2 separate regions of the Homo sapiens genome follow, and region 1 is linked to region 2. A link means that fine-mapping ties the variant in region 2 to the expression of a gene that starts in the linked region. Tissue or cell type: whole blood. Region 2 holds a variant in brackets; the other region holds the start of a gene. All regions are shown on one strand. Distances are from middle to middle.

Region 1 (11,241 bases), 420 kb after region 2:
TTAACAAAAATTTAAAGTGTACATTTACATTCTAAGCACTTTGCTAGGTGCTGGCAACACCATAAAATTCTGACATTTTCATTATTTTTACAATGTGAAATTGTCAAAATTATCAATTTTTCAAATTTATTTTGAGGATACCTAAAATTATACTCATGTAGATACCTATTTCTGTAGACTTGAAACTCGTGTTCTTATAGTTGCCTAACCTTTACTGTCCCATAAGAAAGGGACAACTATATGAGCTATATAAAATTTACAGAAAATCTTTATTTTTATTTTTTTGCCTTTATCCAGCAATGATTTTCTACATGAAGTCACTACTAGTAAATTTCCCATCTTCCTTCAACCTGTCTTTACAAAGAACATGGTAATCTAGGGCTAGAGGCATGGAAGAGGGAACAAAGAATAGTTAAGAAAATAGTAATAATAGCTGCCGAGTATTGTATTCTTAACTAAGTGCCAGGAACTTATCCATTTTCTCAGTTACTTCATAAGATACATGTTATTTTCATATCACATGAGAAAATGCAGTTCAGAATGATTAAATGACTTGTTTAAATGTATACAACTAGTGCAAAGTAGAACTGGGATTTGAATCCGGGTCTGTGTGTTCCCCAAGTCTATCCTTAGATGCTGTACTAGATAAACACAAATGATCTCCTCTTTCCATTGACGTTTAGTAAAAAAGAGGGAATGAGCAAGAAATGGCCTAGGAGTACTCTATTCTCTGGATGTAGATGAAGGAAGCCTTTTGTTTTTTAATCATCTACTCTTTGCCAGGTATTATTTGTGGTGTCCTTTCCCTCAACAGCCCAATGGTTGTTCCCATAGTATGGGTGGTATGATCCCATAGTGGTAAGCAGAAAAGCCAGGCTTCAAGCCTAAGTCTCCAGTCCTATGCCTTATCATTGTCTTCTACTAACCCAGGCAGTGACACAGTGAGGGTAGCAAGTGGCTACGAAATCTCCTTCCAGGATAGGACCAATGCAGTGCTGCAAGATCAGCAAGCATCACTGCCCTCAGTGTTTCCAACTGGTTATTCTAACTGGGCAGTTTTACAATAAGGTTGTCCTTCCATGAAATTAATTCTCCTTATCAGTGACCTAAGACAAGGGTTGGCTTTCTAACTGCCATAAAGTCAAGAGAAGCTTTAAAGAGAAAAAATGTAAAAATGAAACAGATTCTATAATAATATGTGATTCAAACCTACCTGCAAAAACCTTGGGAGAAGATGGTTTGACTCAATGCCAACATATATGTGCAGCAGTTCCAGGAGAGATACGGATTGGCAAAGTCGCATCACAAGTCCAATAGCATAAAAAGTGTCAACCATTGAATCTGTATCCCGTGGGTTAAAAATGCAGATATAGGAAGAAAAAACTGGATTATAACCCAAATTTATGCAGCACTTTGAAGTCAAATGGAGATTATTCACTTCCTTTTTCATTGTACATGTGAAAAATTCCTTAAGTAGGCTACTAAATTATTAACAATACAATGCAAACAAACAAAGCACTTCATACTGTAGTCTATTTTAATTGCTCCTGTTCCAAAAAGAAATCGAAACTTGAGAAAGATTTCATGGCCAAACATACACATAGCATTTATTCCCCACTTATAAGATTATAAAGCAATTCCCACATAAGAGTAACCTCCTAGAATCTAGACCACCTCAAGTGTAAATAGAAGTGAGCTTGTTAAGGACACTATGTGCTCACAGCTTCTCCACTGACAAGAAAATGACAAAGATGAGAAAAAATATTATTTCGGAGAAACTTTATGGAAATGACACTAATAATGCCATGATATCAAATAACATAGGTATCTAGGATTTTGTTTCTATACATATTTGGTTAGTGCTTTTCTGGATTTTGTTAAACACTGGAACTTGGGCCTCTGATCAGGACTTTTGGGGTTTGCATTGCAGAGGGTTCACATGAAATACTGTGCACTTGGAGCTGAAATGGAAGGGAAACAAATGTTCCTCTACATAGGATAAATGTGTTGCTTTAAGTTCTAAAATGAAATCCTGCCATGTTTAGAAACTCGTAGGGAAGATTTTGCTCTCTTTACTGCCCAGTGATGATTCACACAATAATAATTTACTGAGCAGTAAGGATTTCTCTTCTCGGCAGCTCCACAAGATGGACACTATTATCATCATCCCCATTTCAGAGATGGTTCCTGAAGTACACAGTCCATGCTCTTATCCACTGCCCTGCACTTGCTGTACCAGAGCATTATGAATTACACAGCTCCGTGAAGGAAGAAGGTAGCAGGTATAACACGTTCAGGGTTTCAGGTTTCTGTTGAGCTACTTACATAATTTATACATTGATTCAAAAATTGTACTGAAACCACACTTAGTTGTTTTCAGTCTGTCTCCTGAACGAATCGGTTGTGTTTCTTTAATAATAAGCTTCTACAATTGTAATGGCAGGATAATAACTGAGAAAGAAATGCGCCGAGCCGGGCACAGTGGCTCACGCCTGTAATCCCAGCACTTTGGGAGGCTGAGGCAGGCGGATCACCTTTGGTCAGGAGTTCAATACCAGCCTGGCCAATGTGGTGAAACCCCGTGTCTACTGAAAATACAAAAATTAGCCAGGCATGGTGGCGGGCACCTGTAATCCCAGCTACTCAGGGAACTGAGGCAGGAGAATCACTTGAACCTGGGAGACAGAGGTTGCAGTGAGGTGACATCGTACCATTGCACTCCAGCCTGGGCGACAAGAGGGAAACTCCATCTCAAAAAAAAAAAAAAAAGAAAAAAGAAAAGAAAAAAAAAGAAAGAAAAGAAAAAGAAATACTTGATGACTAAGGCAACTTTTCTCACTGGAAAGGTGAGACAGCATAAGCCAGTCCATGGCTTGTGTTGCCAATGACATGTAATATGCCTGCACTGCCTCAGCAAACCTCAAAGGGCTAGAAGTGATGGCTTTTTAATAAAAATATAAAAGAAGTTTTCCCATCACCTGTGTTTTCCTGTGCTTGAAAACTCTCAACATTTGTAGTTGAAACTCAAGCTTTAGGTTATATCTTTGGAGGTCCTTAACAAAGGCGAGACTATATCTGTAGATTTTCAGTAAGAAAAAGCAACATAAAATAGCTTATGGGACCCTGCAAGTAGAATAACTTCCTTATGATACACACGTCTGAAATGATGAGCACAGCATGACTTTTCCCAGCTACATTCTAAACATTTGTTTTTAGCTGAAGCCAGCAGTTGCTTAGATTGTCAAGTCACTCAACAGTTGTAAACTGTGAGGACACTTACCCACGTGCGGATGGAACATGAAGAGAATGTTATTTTGATAGTCATTTAGTCACCCAACAGTGACTTTACTTTTCAGGAAACTAGAGGAAGTTTATGACTTAAACCATTAATGCTGACTCCTATATAAGTGGTTAGCCCTCTACAAAGTGTGTCATTTACATATTACTTCTTAAAGGGACCAAATAGAGGCTTGGGGAATATAAAATTTGTATTTCACTTACTAGTAGTCTCCAGTTACCTCAAACCTGGGGAATAATACAAACACTGGAAGAATTTGATTCATTCCTGATTTCTCTGCATAAAATGTTATGCTGAGATTTCCTCAAAACACTAGAAATCTGCTAAGGTTTGGTACAGAATGGAAAAGGAACAATGAAATGATACCACCTCAGTGCCATCCATCTCTTTTTTGAGGCAAACTGCCAACTCAGGGGGAAGCCAAATCCCTTTCCCTTACTTATCCCACCTTCCCCCTTCCCCAAGAAGGTTTTGCAATAAACATGGTTGCTAAAAAATACAAATTTTAGAGAAGGATATTAGAAGGTTGAGGTGTGTAGAAATTTAATATAAGCAGGATGAGGTGAAAACAAGGATTAAAAGTTAAAAATAAAAAAACTGTTTCGGAGTTTTACCTTTTCCAAATGAAAAGAATCTGACTGTCATATTTGTAAATATCCAAGAGTGGCCACAGAACTGGATTAAGTAATAGATGAAAAGATACGCATTCTTCCTATACCTATAAATACAGGAAAATACCATTAAACACTTCTTTTATAATCATCCTTTCATCACTGTACACATGCCCTTTAATGTACTGGCCAACCTGAGAAAGCAAAAGAAAACTGTTTCATATCAGTCTTTTATCTGGTTACCCCCAAGTACATATCAGATTTTGAAGGGAGCCATAACCTACACTACCCGCTAAAGTAAATACAGATGCTTCTTCACTTATGATGAAGTTACGTCCTGGTACACCCCATCAGCTGAAAATATCATAAACTGAAAATATCATAAGTTGAAAATGCATGTAATACAACTGATCTACAGAACATCACAGCTTAGCCTAGTCTACCTTAAACTTGCTCAGAACACCTACATTAGCTTACAGTTGGGTGGAATCATCTGGCAACACAGTGCACTGTGGAGTACCGGTTGTTTACCTTCCTGATCATGCGGCCGACTGGGAGCTGCGGCCTGATGCCGCGGCCCAGCATCATGAAAGGATATCATACCTGCACATCGCTAGCCTGGGGAAAGATTAAAATCCAAAATTTGAAGTACGGTTTCTAATGAATACATATCATTTTCACACCATCACAAAGTTTAAAAAATTGTGAGTCATGGACCATCTGTATAGTGAGTTTGCTTAAAACCAAATATAGTGCTTTTTCAAAATCTGCTTTCATCTTTGATAAAGTTCTAACCTTGCTGCTCACCAAGGAATAAAAGAAACCACTGCGAAGGTGGCTTTGAATATTCTTTAAAAAAACAAAACAGGCTGGGCGCGGTGGCTCAGGCATGTAATCCCAGCACTTTGGGAGGCCAAGGCGGGTTGGATCACTTGAGGCCAGAAGTTCAAGACCAGCCTGGCCAACATGGCAACTTACAAAAAAAAAAAAAAAAAAGCCGGATGTGGTAACGTATGCCTGTAATCCCAGCTACCTAGCTGCTCAGGAGGCTGAGGCAGGACAATCACTTGAACCTGGGAGGTAGAGGCTGCAGTGAACCGAGACAGCGCCACTGCACTCCAGCCTGGGCGACAGATCAAAACTCTGTTCTCAAAAATAAATAAAAAATAAAAAACAAAACAACAACAACAACAAAAAATCCATGTGTGCAGAGTGGTTGACATGTCACTATGTGTTCCAGTAGCTCAGCTTGCTAAGTGCAGAACTTGAGACACAGTGTTTTAGTTCTGAAGGGGGGTAGGGATGGGAGTAATCCAAATGTTGGGTAATTCAGTAATTGGACACACCTGACTTTTGAACACATTATGTGATTGAGGTTAGTATTAACATCTTGCCACTGCCTATTAACATTTTGCAAGGGTAGATAGTTTCCTTCATCAGATACATATCGAAAGCAGTTTAGTTGCTCATACCAGAAGAGGGAAGTCAAGCTGGGTTTAACAATGTGTTGTGAGTTGCTGGGGAGATGACTAAGAGAAGATTGACAGATAGATGGTTTGAGGGAGTTAGGAAAAGCACTGTTTGAAATGTTCCCTGGGAGTTCAGAAGAGTGACGGGAGTGGCCCTGCCAGTGTGGTCAAGATTTACTCCTCCTTGAAGATGTGAAACCTCCTAGAAACAAGGAAAATAAGCTGGGAGGCAGAATGATTTTTATTTGGGGACATCCTCCCCTATAAAGGCAGGAACTGCTAAAGGGTTTGGGAAGAGGAAATCCTCCTTCAGCTTGTATCAGAATTACCTGGCTTGTGGGTTAAACATATACACCCCCAGGCCCTACCGCTATATGACTGAATCTGTTCCCCGCCGGAACTAGGCCCTGAAATCTATACGTGTGATAGGTGTTTCCACGGCTGTTACATCTAAAAATCACCCCGCAACTCTGCGTCTGAGAAAGTCAAGAGAAGGCTCCTGGGGGGAGGGAAGTACTGGCAGAGGGCTCACAAGGGCAGGGGTAGCCATGCAGCCTGTCCTTCCCATTCAACTGTAAAATGGAGAAAATAACAGAGCCTGCTTCCTAGGGTGGTCAAGAGGGGTAAGTTAGCAAATACCTGCATGAGCTCCAAGGGGTGCCTGGGCACGGTAGCGCTGCGCCTTGCTGGCGGGCGGGGGGTGCCGCCCGCCCGCCCGCCGCAGAGGGGAGCTCCCGCCTCCAGGCCCTCCACCCGCGCCCCCTCCCCTCGGGATTCGGCCGAGCGCCCTACCTGGGCTGCAGCCAGGCGGGCAGCGCCAAGGGCCCCATGGGCCGCCGCCGCCAGGGCTTCCAGCGCGGTCCAGGAAGGAGTACCGGGGAGGAGGCAGGGGCGGCCCCGCGGCTGGGCGCGGAAGGGCGGGGCCTCTCCACACTCAGCAGTTTACAAAAAGAAAAAGCCCGAGGTCGTGCGTTGGGGAAGAGATGAAAACGAAGTTCTCGAAGTTTCTGCAGCACTGCTAGAGCGCGTCAGGGCGCAAGGCTGGGAGGCGGCTCGCGTTCCCGGTGGGGTTACCAAACTCTGGTTACAGCTTCCTAATCTTTGTGTTGAGACCCCCTTGCAAGCCTTCTGGAAATTAATGCATCTGGGCGATTTCCGGGGCCTCCGAACTCGCTGAAGCCCATCCCCAAACCTCCCGAGATGAGTGGATTCCAGGGTGGGCTCTGCTCAATGCCCACCGGTGAGCCAGGTTCAGACACGAAGCTTGTGCCGGGCGCAGTGGCTAATGCCTATAATCCCAGCACTTTGGGAGGCCGAGGCGGGAGGATCTTTTGAGCCCAGGAGTTCGAGACCAGCCTGGGCAACATAGCGAAAACGCGTCTCTACTAAATGTACAAAAATTAGTCGGGCATGGTGACGCGGGCCTGTGGTCCCAGCTACTCCAGAGGCTGAGGTGGGAGGATCGCTTGAGCCTGGGAGGTCGAGGCTGCAATGAGCCAAGATCACGCGGCTACACTCCAGCCTGGGTAACAGAGCGAGATCCTGTCTCAAAAAATAAATAAAAATAAAACGAAGTTTGTAGCACACCTCCCCAACACTTTTTCAGCTAGGGGCCTGATTCCTCTTCTATCAGGCCTCCCTGCTCTCTAATCTCCCTTGGGTTCTCACTGGTGCCTGCAAATCTTTATTCACGTTGTGTTAATTTCTCTAGCCTATGCCCAGCACTGCTACAACCCCTTCGTGATCTCTCAGGCTTATGACATCACTGTCTCCGTACACAGATGACCCACCCTCCTGCTTTGCTAATAAGATCCAGCCCATCTTCAAGCTCCTCTGCCCAGAAAGGGAAACGTTAAAACAAAAACAGAAACATCTAAGAAGGCACTTGCAAGTAAGTGGGACAATGGCACCTGGTTTTGGAGTTGGAAGTTAGCGCCCCCATTTTTACCAAAAGGGAAGTTGAGGCATTAAAAAAATGTTAAGTCACTTGGCACAGGTCACACAATTGATAAAATGGCAGTATCAGAACTTCAAGGTTGGTGGGATTTCTTGTTTGTTTCCCATTAGGCCGTGGCTTCCTTTTTTCATAGTCCATTCCATTCACTATGCCTACCTCTCACCTCTACATTTCTCTGCACCTTCTCTCATACCCTGCCCTCAGTCGGAGGTTAACCCCAACTTTGTGTTTACCAGTCCCTTCTCAGACTCACTGCATCAGTAGTTAACCATCGCCTCTTCTTGCATCGTCATCCCCTCCTTTCCATTGGCTTTCACTGCACTTTAGGGACATAGACAACTCTCTCTTAGCATATAATTAAACATTGTATTCTTTCTGTTTCTCTCTCAATGGAATCTTCTAATAACTCCCTGCCTGCCTTCTCTGATCAGGTGCTTCTTTCATTTCCTACCATCTTCCTGTTCCATAATACCTTACAGTTTGACTCTCCTGACACTGCTCCGTCCGCGAGCATGTTAATTTTTCGCCGAATCCCTATCCTGTATCACCTTGCAGGATGATGCCCCACGGTCCTTGCTTTTACAGAACATTTGATCTAAAGGGTAAACTGGTGGCTAACCCATTATCAATGCTATCTCTGATCAGGTTAAGCAGCAAGAGAGAAAGTAAAGTCCCAGATGGCCTGCAGTGGGGCAGGAGGGAGAAGGTGGAAAGCCTGCCCAGAAGAATTGATCCTTTGTCACCAAACACAGCCCCTGCATCCACATCCTCATTGACAGGTCTGCTGCATTTTACCAGTTCTGTCTGTCTGCCATTTACCCCTGAAGTTCTACATATTCTACGTCTCTTGCCTTATGTCCCTTCTGTCTCTCTGGATGGGTCTTCTTCTCCTGCTGTATTTCCTCAAAAGTCTGCCCTTAGTCACCATCCATTTGTCACCATGTTATCCCTCAGCATAGACAACCACACATGGCTTTATCTCCATGTGGACAACTTTTGACTATTATTTTCAGCCCTTTCTTCTTTTATGAATACTATCTCTGGCCTTTGAGCAGCTTTTGGATATTTCCTCATGAAAGTCCTATTGTTTGGACTATCTTTGGAACGTCTTCCAATTCAACCTATTTAAAATAAGCATACTATCTCTCTTCCTAAATCATTATTTCCCACAGAAAGACCACCATTTTTCTAGCCACTTGATTTTAAATTGGGGAGTCATCATTAAGCACCCCATCCAATCAAATTCGATTGATCCCATCCTTTCCAGATCTCCTACTAATCAGTAGTGTTCTTTGTCCATTCCTTATTTTCCAGTACCTGGGTGAGGAGTAATTGGCCTCCCTCACATCCATTCTTTACATCATAACTCAGTTGACTTTCTGGAGCGTCTTGGGTTATATCTTTCTGCTGCACAAAAAGAGGCCCTTTTTAGTTGCCAAAAAAGAACAAGCCAATCAGTCGAAAAATAAAAAATCCTTTCAAATCAAGCAGTTAGCTGATTCTACGTTATTTCCCAAGGAAAGAGTACAAAAAGAGCTTAGGAGAGAACATTTTGTATGAAAAGTGAAATTCTCCCTTTCCCCTGGTCAGTTCCCAGTCCTGCCCACGTCCTGCCAGCATTATCAAGATGGCCTCCCCCAGCCTCCCTGCCTCCAATCTCTTTCCTCCTTCTACCCAGACTGCCATAGATTATTTAAGGATGGCAAAAATATTTCTTAAAACACAGTTCTGATGTAGCCATTCTCCTGGTCTAAATCTTTTGCTGACTCCCCGTTGCCTGCTACAGTATATCTCTTCTTGCCCCTAAACCTGTCACATGCTGACATCTCCTACCATCCTATCCCCTTACCAAAAATCACAGCAACCTGCTGTTCCATGACCACACCAGGCATTCTCTGGCCAATGTGCCTCTGTGAAAAATTTCCCGTCTACTTTTTCTATTCTACCTCCTCCCCTTATCACAGCCCAGTACTTACCTGTCAAAATTCTATTCATTCTTTAAAAGCCTTCCCAAAGATCCCCTCTGGGAGTCACATAGGCTAACGTATGTCTATGTTGGTATTTATCTTAGGGTATTGTTGTTGTCAAGGTACTTGACTATTTAACTAGATTATAGATTCTCAGAGGCTTCTCTCTCACTAACAGTGAGAATTTGACAACTTTTAACCTTTAAAAATGAAGTTTCTTTTGCCAAAAGCACACAGTTATTAGAAAGATCAAATAATAAAATTTATAGATGAAAATGGATAAAAGCCCCTAGTACAGTGCTTGGCATAGTAAGTATCCATAAATATGTTGGATGAATGAATTAAATCTAGTATGAGTTTTCTATTCCCAAAATTTTAACCCAAAACAAAACATTCAGTGATAGTTACATTACTGAAGTATGTATATTCAACTTTCAGTTATCCACTGGTACAGAAGAAGTCAGAGTCCAAGATAACAACTGAATTAATATATTCTAATCTTTAGAAGAAATTTTAAAATTATTCGAACATGTCAATTTTGTTTTCCTTGGGCAAATGCTTCAATTTGTTTTCATCCCAAAGAGCACCATCTGGGAGGCTAAAACCTTGAAATATATTTCATGGCAGTAACAGACTGGCTACAAAATAAATTCTTTTTTATTTTCAGCACCTTGAGTTTTCAGAGGTCACTCCTCTCCCTCAAAGAAAACACAGAATAAAACTCTTTGTGACCTTGGGTTAGGTAGAGATTTCTTAGGTATTTCATCTAAGAAGCCCTCTTAGATAGCTAAGCAAGCATTTCTTAGCTACTTCTGGCCTTCAAAAGACACTTTCAAGTGAGTGAAAAGAAGCTATATAGTAGAAGAAAATATTTAAAAATCGCATAACTAATAAAGAACTTGTTTGCAAATATATACAGAACTCTCAAAACTCAATAATTGGAAGACAATAAACCCCCCCAAAATAGGCAAAAGATTTGAAAACACACATAACCAAGTAAGAGACAAAGAAAGAACATAAAAGTATGGTCAAAATAATTAGTAATTATGGAAATGAAAATAAAACCACAATGAGATATCGCTACACACTGATAAAGATGGCTAAGATGAAAAAGAGTTAACCACCACAAGTGTTAGTGAAGATGTGCCACAATGGGGATTCTCATAAGCAGCTTTATTTTTAATAGCCAAAAACTGAAAACAACCCAAATTTCCATAAACAGATGAATGGATAAATAAATTATGGCATAACTGTACAATGAAATCCAACTCAGCAGTAAAAAGAAGTGAACTACTGATACAAGCAATAACATGGATGAAATTCAAAATAATCAAACTGAATGTCAGAAGCCAGAAAAAAAAAGAATAGATACTGTATGATTCTACTTATTTAAGGCTCTAGAAAGTGGAAACTAATCATCACTGATAGAAGGAAAATAAGTGGCTGTCTGAGGATAGATAGTGAAGAGGAATGAAAAAAGGGAGGGATTGCAAAGGAGCATGAGAGGTGGAAATGTTAATTGTTTTGCTTGTGGTGAGGTTTTTCAGGCATGTATCTATCTTAAAACTTATCAGTTTAAATTGATTCAGTTTATTGCAGTTTAGTATATGTTAGTTACACCTCAATAGAGCTGTTAATACACTAACACACTAATATTTAACACACTAATATTTATAAAGAGAAATGTAGGGTTTTCTGTTTTGAATAACTTTTATTATTGCTTATGATATAACATCCTGTGATTTTCAAGGGAAAAGTAAACAATACAAAACAAGATTTTTCAATAAAAAGAAACTCAGTATGCTCCAGGGCAGACTCTTTGATTTATTGCCCTTCTCCCCAAGGCACCTTAGCGTATGGCATTTACACAATCTGCAGTTGGTGAATACTGGGTCGCAGACCTGTACATATAGGCCCCTGGGTTGTCTTTTAGTTCATG
Region 2 (8,000 bases):
AAATTAAATAAATTAGTTTGCAAGTAATTAATGACGAGAATTCAATAACGTAAAACTATCCCTGCGTATTCTCTATGGCTGGGAAATTTAGCTGGTTATGTTCATATAATACACTTAGTGGGTCTTGGAGCCCACTGCCTGTAAAATCTCCCATGGAGATTCAAGACCACCCATTGAAAATAGAACATTATTGCCTCCAGCAAGAAGCTGGTACATAGGACTGGTTATTCAAGTCTTTTAAATACTATTTTATTGAGGGATTGCAGGAGGTGGGGGAGGGGTGAAGGCGGATTCATGAGTGGATGGGGGAGGAAAACTCAGAAAAAAACAGTAATTTCTAAAGCAGAGGTTCCTGCCGTACCCCCTTCACCCACCCGTACTTTTAAAACAGCTACATAAACAAAGTAATAAGTGCTCAATTTCAGAGAGAATTACATTATACTCCATTTGAACAGGCTACAAAGTACTTTTATTTGAAAAGCTGCTTGTGCTCTGTTATAAACAATTTTACTCTGCACCAATTTCAGACAAGAGAAGATGGCTAGGGAGTGTGGGAGGTGGAGTTAGGAAAAATTCACTCAGTGTCTTTCAATGCCTTAAACAGTTGATCCAATAAAGATCCTTTAGAGAAAACTTTAAGTCTATTTTTTTTCTCCAAGTAAGCAAATCATACAGGAGGGCTTTTCTTTTCTAGGGTACTGCACCCTGTCTCTTTAAATTCCAGGCCTGCCCCATTTCCCACGCATTCAATGAAAGCCCCACGTTTGCTGGCCTCCAGCCCACAATGTCAAGTAGTTCTCTTGCTATTGAATTTCAAGATTATTCTTTTGGATCATTTGCCCTTTAGTTTTAAGCACACCAAAGCAAAAATAATGTCTTTCTACAATAACATAAAGAAAACTCAGAGGTCTTTACAAGTCTACAAGTAGAGAACACCTTGTCCTCTGGTTCCTCTTTCACTGCAAAATATGCTCCCACTCCATATGCTCCAAATAAGGGCCATTTGTACACTATCGTCATCTACCATAGTTTTGTCTGTCCTATAACAAAATTTTATGAGTATTTTTATTTAATTTGGTGCCAATTTGGAATCTCTTTGCAATACTCAAACCAGGTCTTCATATTGCTCAAACTCTCCACTCTTCAACTTGGTGTCTGGGGTATTTGGTTATAACAAGTTTTAAAACAATTACTTAATTTTAAAACTATTATTTTATTTTTGCAGTTAAGACATCTATATAAATTAACTTACTAATAAAAGCAGCAAATAAACATTGCCATCTGTACTCATTGTGCCAAAGAGTATATTTTCCTCATTCTTGTATACACCTTAATCCTGAAGAAGGGATTCCAGGCCATTATCAATCACATTTAGAATTCTCTCAAAAGGAATAGACATAGTTAAGCAGAAATTTGTCAGCAGAACTAAATTAAGTTCATGGAATATAATCTTATTCCAAATGCTGGCAAATAGAATTTGAAGTTGCAATTTTATTCAAGCAGCTAATAAGAAATACCCAGATCATAAACATCATTGTTTATATTTCACAAACATTCTAAGGTAGAGTTAATCTATTTGTATTTTATGGATTTTGTAAAATCATCTACTACTAAAGGGAAAATGCCCTTATTTTTATTTGACATATAGCTTTGCTATGCATTAGTGCACAGTACACTTTTAAAGTTTAATGTCAAAATGCAAATGTGTTTTCTCACGGACTATAAAATCATGGACTTAATTAGATAAATTTTAGATTGCAGAGAGACCCTTGAGACAACTAAAATTAACCTCCTCATTTTGCGGAAATCATTTTTAGTTATGCTTAAGGAATATTCATATCAATCTGCATTGTATATAAAACATAAAATTATGTACTAATTTCCCTTTGTAAAAACCTCTAGTTATTTTTGTAGCTTATATATGAAATATTAATAAAATCATCTTAGTATCAAAATAGTTTGAATTTATGGAATTATGCATGAATTCTCCATCCAAAAAGGACCACTTCTTTCTCTGCCCTAAATCTTTTTTTCTCTATGCCTTATGTTTGGTACTTGTTTTGGTACTTTTTATTTCTTAAAAGTTCATGTTTAACTTCCAAATTATATACAAAGATGCACACATTGGAATTGAGTCTTTTATTTCCAATTATCAATACTATTTATTCTTCAACATAATCACCATATATCTAAGCAACATGATGACAGTCTTTTTATTTGTAGTTGATTTTTAAAGTCAGATGTAGGCTCTAGAAAAATTTTTAACACTACACAGCAAGATAGACATGTTAATTATCAAAGTTATCAAAACTCCACAGGAAAAAAGGGCCAGAACTTTTCAAAACATTCCTAAGTACTCCAAAAATGTATACTGTACTGATATATTACACATGGGTATCTTTCTGTTACCAAGACTATCCTATATGAATACACATTTATAAATCAGGTTAATCTCATTACTTTTATAACTTCAATACAAAATGTTAAGAAAGGTAAGAACGTTATCTACATGTCTCCCTTTAAAGCTTACGATCAACTTATGAAACATTGTGCAAATACTCATAGTAACATTAAAGGAAAAGACTCAAAACGACAAGGTGGCAAAAATGTCAAATAGCAAAATTTGAAAATGTTTCTTGGGAAAGACAGTCTTAATCATGTTCCAAATTACTTGTAGAAAAAACTAAAAATCTTATTGTAAATGTGCCCATACATACATTTAAATACTAGTTTTACTTTCACATAATATGAGTCATTCAAGAAAACTTGAAAAAGCCAACGAATTTTACTGACAACAATAAGAAGTTCCTGATATCCCACGTCCCAGAGATCACTTATATTAACATTCTACGATAGTATTTCTTCCCATCTTTTCAGTGATGTATTTTTATCTATCACATACTTCTCAAAATGTGGGGTAAAGATGAACAAATCTAGCCATTCTAACACAGAAAATGAACTGAATCAATGATGTTAACCTAAAAAAGATACTCTGTCAAGAAGCATTAACTATAAGCTATTGTTTAGCCTTTACAATGTAAGAAAATTCCTATTTATTTGCAGCTCTATTTTAAATGTCTGCATTTGTGTATTTTTGGATAAATTATCGGCTCTAGTCAATTGCTTGACAATTTCCTTTACAGAATTGGAATGCTAACTAAAATTATTTTTTCTTTGACCTAAAAGTTATACAGCATGTTACAACTGAAGAGTAGAAAAGTACTTGCTTTTCAAAACAACTTCAATTCAGCATTTGAATTATTAAATAGAAAACCCTATTTATTCTTATATGTATGTATGCAAGTATGTTGGATGATCAAAAATTTCATATACTTTCTTCTAATCTGTTCACATGATAATACAGACAGCCCTCAATTAGCTTACATGGGCAGTCCTCAATTATTACTCTATTGATAATAAAAACACAAGTAATATCTGGTAAGTGATACTTCAGAAAAGCAAATTAAGTGACACAATTTCAAGGTCTATTTTATGTAAAAGACAAAAAAGCATGAAAAACCCAACGATCTAATGGCATGGTCAAGAGCCATAATTGAGGAAGAAGTTTCCTATCAACACTGGGTGGTCTTCTGAGTTCTTGAAATGCTCCAATCTACAAGTAATAGTTGATGGTTGAGGTGAATGGCACCGATATGATCAGAAATTAACTTTTACAAGTGTAACTTAATCCCTTATTTGGTGAATTACTCATGTTATCTTCTACTTCCCTATTACTGCAGCAAGTCTTTCACCCATTTCACTGTCCATTCACCATAAGAAAGGATAAAATTCCAATACACTGATGTT[C/T]ATATATTGGTATTTTATTTTCTCAAGAATATCATTCTCCGAACTACTACTTAGGAAGAGTCAGAAATTAAATACTCCACATGTCTATTGTCTAGCATGATAACCAATATAGCTATTTAATAAAGGGTAGTTATTATTTCATTGTTATAAAAACACTAGATCAATGACAATTGCAGAATTTATCCTTTTTAAAACTAAAGGAAAAACAGTATTTTCAGAGCTGCAAAAGCCCACACAGCTTATTCAGTCCAAACACATCCTTTCTACCTCCCAGGCCAGGGCCTTTCCTGCCACACTGCTAAATACTGCTCCTACCAGTTACTGGAATTACATTAGACTCTTATTTTTAAAGCTAAAAGGCTGGTTGTATTTCATGGATTAGGTAGTAAAAAAATGATAGAGCTGGCCAAGTCCTTCAAGTTTGTGTCTAGCTTTTCTTTTTAAGCATCCAAAGTAAGTGAAGAAAGAATAAGGGAAAAAAGAGAAAAGAGAAAAATTCATTTTTGCCTATTACAAATGCTAGAACACATTCTAGAAAATGTGATTCTCAGCAGACACAATGTTTCCTGCTAAATTCAAGTGGTGGTTCTGTTTACACAAAGTCAATTATTAGAGGTGCAGAAGAAATGAGTTTCAGAAATCTGAGTAATAATTTATAACTTACAGGAGTGGAAAGTAAAGCCAGGGATTCTAAAACCCTTTTTCTGACTTGCAATACCTGCCTTTATACGGTTGCCAAAAAATTCCAGGGTCAAGACATTACATTGATGGAGCTATAAGTAGTATCTACAGTGATAACATAGGTCCCATCCTTTCTGATGTGTAACTCTAATGCAACACAGGAGGAAAAAGAGATAACATATACAAAGAGAAGGGAGTGTTGGTCTAATGAAAGCATGTAACACATAACACGTGCTGCTTTGGTGCTCCATAAAATGAGGGAAGTTAGCTTCCAGCCCACTAGTTACTATTTCTGTGCATACAGAGAAAAAGTCATACAACAAGCATCAGACAATCTTGAACTGGGTCAACATTTTCAAATAACGTGTTCCACTCAATGCAACTAAATCTCAACAGCCCAAATCCCCCATGTTTCATTGACTCTATAAAACAGCTGCTTATTATAGAGAAACAGAGAAATAAGTAAAATGAAGGAAAATACTATGTGAAATAGAAGAATGTTTCTTCAATATAAAAAAGGTCGTAATTATTTAGCTTTCATTATTCATATTAATGAAGTATTTGTGGTAAAGGGTAAAGATGATATAAAGTCTACAATGAACCTGGTTTTTAAACACCCAAAGTGTTTTACATGTTTATCAAATGAATAGATACCTGGAATAATCAGACAGTATTCTATCCCCAGTACCATCCTTGGAGGGAGGCAGGGGAAATGGGACATAAAAACCTATCTGCAAAAATGAAAAGGCATCATTCAGACAAAATTTATATCTGAAAACATTAAGAGGCAAATTACCTCCCTACTCTCCAAGCCACTGCTATTATTATTAATACTTCAGGAAACTGTTAATATATATTTTGCTTTTAAAAATCAATATACACACACAGAGCATTTTGCCTGGTATTGATGAGGAAATAACTAATAATTTCTACTGGAAAGGAACAAAGAAAAAAAATCTAGTTTTGACAAAATCAAATATTTTAAAATAGAAAAAAATTAACTTGGCTTTGAGAATATCAACCTTCTAATATGTGTAACTAATTAAAGGTAACTAATTATATTTATAATCACTAATGAACACTATTTTAAAGATAAGCCATAATTTTCTTTAATAAAAAAAATGGTGACTTGATTTTATCCAAAAAGTTAATTGTTAACTGCTACATACCAACTAAATCACACCCAAATGCTGGCCTTATCTTTTTAGAAATTCTATCGTAATAGCCTTCTTCAGTCGTCAACCACTGCAAACTTACCACACTTAAGTCAAAAGGATTAAGTCATGCAACATTACTTCTTAAAACAACACCCTGCATCCTTCATGTAATTGCAATTCTTACCACTGGGTGAATTGGGGACAAAATATCAGGAGATAACTACCACCCAGCAACAATTTTTTCTAATGATTTAATCTCAAAGGAAAACTTTAATTCATATAGAGAATTTGATTTTGTCTGAAAGTAGCTATAGAACTTTTTCCTTTTAAACAGCATCTACCATGGTTACCACCACTTAATTAAATCCTAGATCATGTCTACAAAAGCAGCTATTGCTGAACATTTGTCTGCTAATATAAGTGAATTATTACTCAATGTTTTAAAAGTAAACATTGACCACCATTTATTACTAGTTATCTTTGCACAGGCATACTTGTGACTCATTGTGTCTACATGCAAGATTGCTCCACATTTCTAGGCTTCTGATTAAAAGTAAAATGAAAGGGTAATCGAAGATGAAGAATCTCAAGTGTCCTTTCCAGCTCTAAAAAGACACAGCACACTGAAGGCAGGGACCTCCTCTTACTCTTATTTGTATCTCCCTCAGTCTTTCACTGTATCCTACATATATATTGCCTTTTGGTTAAGCACATTACTATGGCCACGAACTAAATTCTTAAATAAGACCCTAAGCCCAGAGAGGAAAACAAAACAAAATAAAGCACATCAGTTTGACAAAATTAAAAGCTTGCATATGGCAAAAAGATACCATAAATCAAGATAAAAGAAAAAAATGAGGCAAGATATTTTCAACAAAAATAACAAAGGAAGAACATCCTACAAACAAGAAAATGACAAGCAACCCAATCTTTTCTTTTAAGAAAAAGGATATAAAAAGAAGTCAATAAAGAGGAAATCAAAATAGTCAATATATATATATAAAATGCTTAATCCCACCAGGAACCAGAGAAATGTAAATGAAAACAAAAAGATACCAAATTTCAACTCTGAAAAATAGGAAATATTAAAATAGCCAAAATTGGCAAAGATATAGAGGAAAAATGGTACTCATTTTCTTGACAGAGTATAAACTGTCAGAACCACTTTTTAGAGCAATCTGACAGCAGCTAGTACAAATGAAGACACACGTGCCCACAACTCAATAACTCAAAATCTAGGCCTATGTCCAAACCCTTGTTCATCTGCACAAGGTAACATGCACAAAGATGCTCACTGCACAGAACAGAAAATGACCTATTTATTTCTTAATAGGAAAACAGAAAAGTAAAGTATACAATATATTCCCATGATGAAATACTAAGCAGAAGAAATTAAAGAGAATGACGTGGCTCTTTATAGATGAAATGTGGACAGGTTCAGAAACAGAATTGAGTGGGGGAAAAAAGCAAGATGCAAATGTATTCACTCATAAAAATATTCTGGTATTAAATAATGGCAATGGTTACACAACCTTATGAATATACTAAAAACCACAGACTTGCACACTTTAAAAGGGTAAATTTTGCATGTGAATTATATCTCAATTGTAAAAAAAAGATTCACTAGCATGATCCTCTTCACGTTGATTTTAAGACACAATACATTATTATTTGTAAGCAACATATATGTGCAAAATAAATAGAATGGAAGACAGACTGAAGGGTTGGAAGAAAAGGCTGGGAAGCATTTTAAAACATTAGCTGCATCTATAATAGTTAATTCTCCAGAATCCAAACAAGGAATCAAATAAGATAATATGTAAACATTTATTCATTCTTGGTAGTGGGGATTTGAATGTTTGTTATATCATTCTCTGCATTTCCCCATGCTTTTTTTTTTTTAATTAAAAAAGCAGCCATGGACTACAAAGGACAAAAAAGGCACATCACAAAAGACAAACGGTAAATAAATACATAATGAAAGATATGTGGCACTGCTAATCATATAAATGCAAACCAAAATGAGGCAGTTTTTCCACACAGATTGGCAAAGATTTTTTTAAGCTGTTAATTTCCAGTTTATATGCCTGAGGAAATATAAACTGGGACAATCTTTTTGGAGGAAAGTTTGGTAATATATAACAAAATTTTAACTCTGTATACCTTTTGACTCCACAACCTCCCTTCTAGAAATTTAACATAAACAAATTATTAGAAAAACCATTAAAATGAATGTCAAAGATGTCCACCACAGCACTATTCATAACAAATCAAAACTGGGAACAATCCAAAAGAAGTATAATAAATCCATATACAATGTCATACCAGAAAAATCCAACAATTTTAAAAGATGAT

The links. PIP is the estimated chance that this variant, and not a neighbour inherited with it, causes the effect.
Region 1: it holds the start of HACD4, and the variant in region 2 is fine-mapped to the expression of HACD4 in whole blood (TOPMed, PIP above 0.99).

What each region holds. Positions count from the first base shown.
Region 1 is chr9:21,025,383-21,036,623 of GRCh38, forward strand. HACD4 (3-hydroxyacyl-CoA dehydratase 4) reads right to left here and starts at 6,258. Exons shown (of 7, transcript NM_001010915.5): 1 at 6,171-6,258; 2 at 3,913-4,016; 3 at 1,214-1,341. The coding sequence starts at 6,208. It overlaps LOC105375989 (a long non-coding RNA gene), which reads left to right and starts at 6,260. Exons shown (of 3, transcript XR_007061435.1): 1 at 6,260-6,618; 2 at 7,090-7,269; 3 at 7,981-8,537. RefSeq lists a silencer at 6,034-6,393 and an enhancer at 6,037-6,597.
Region 2 is chr9:20,606,053-20,614,052 of GRCh38, forward strand. All of the region lies in intron 2 of MLLT3 (MLLT3 super elongation complex subunit), which reads right to left. Among named protein-coding and RNA genes, the nearest start is that of MLLT3, 12 kb to the right of the region's middle. The variant C/T (reference allele first, on the strand shown) is at 3,808.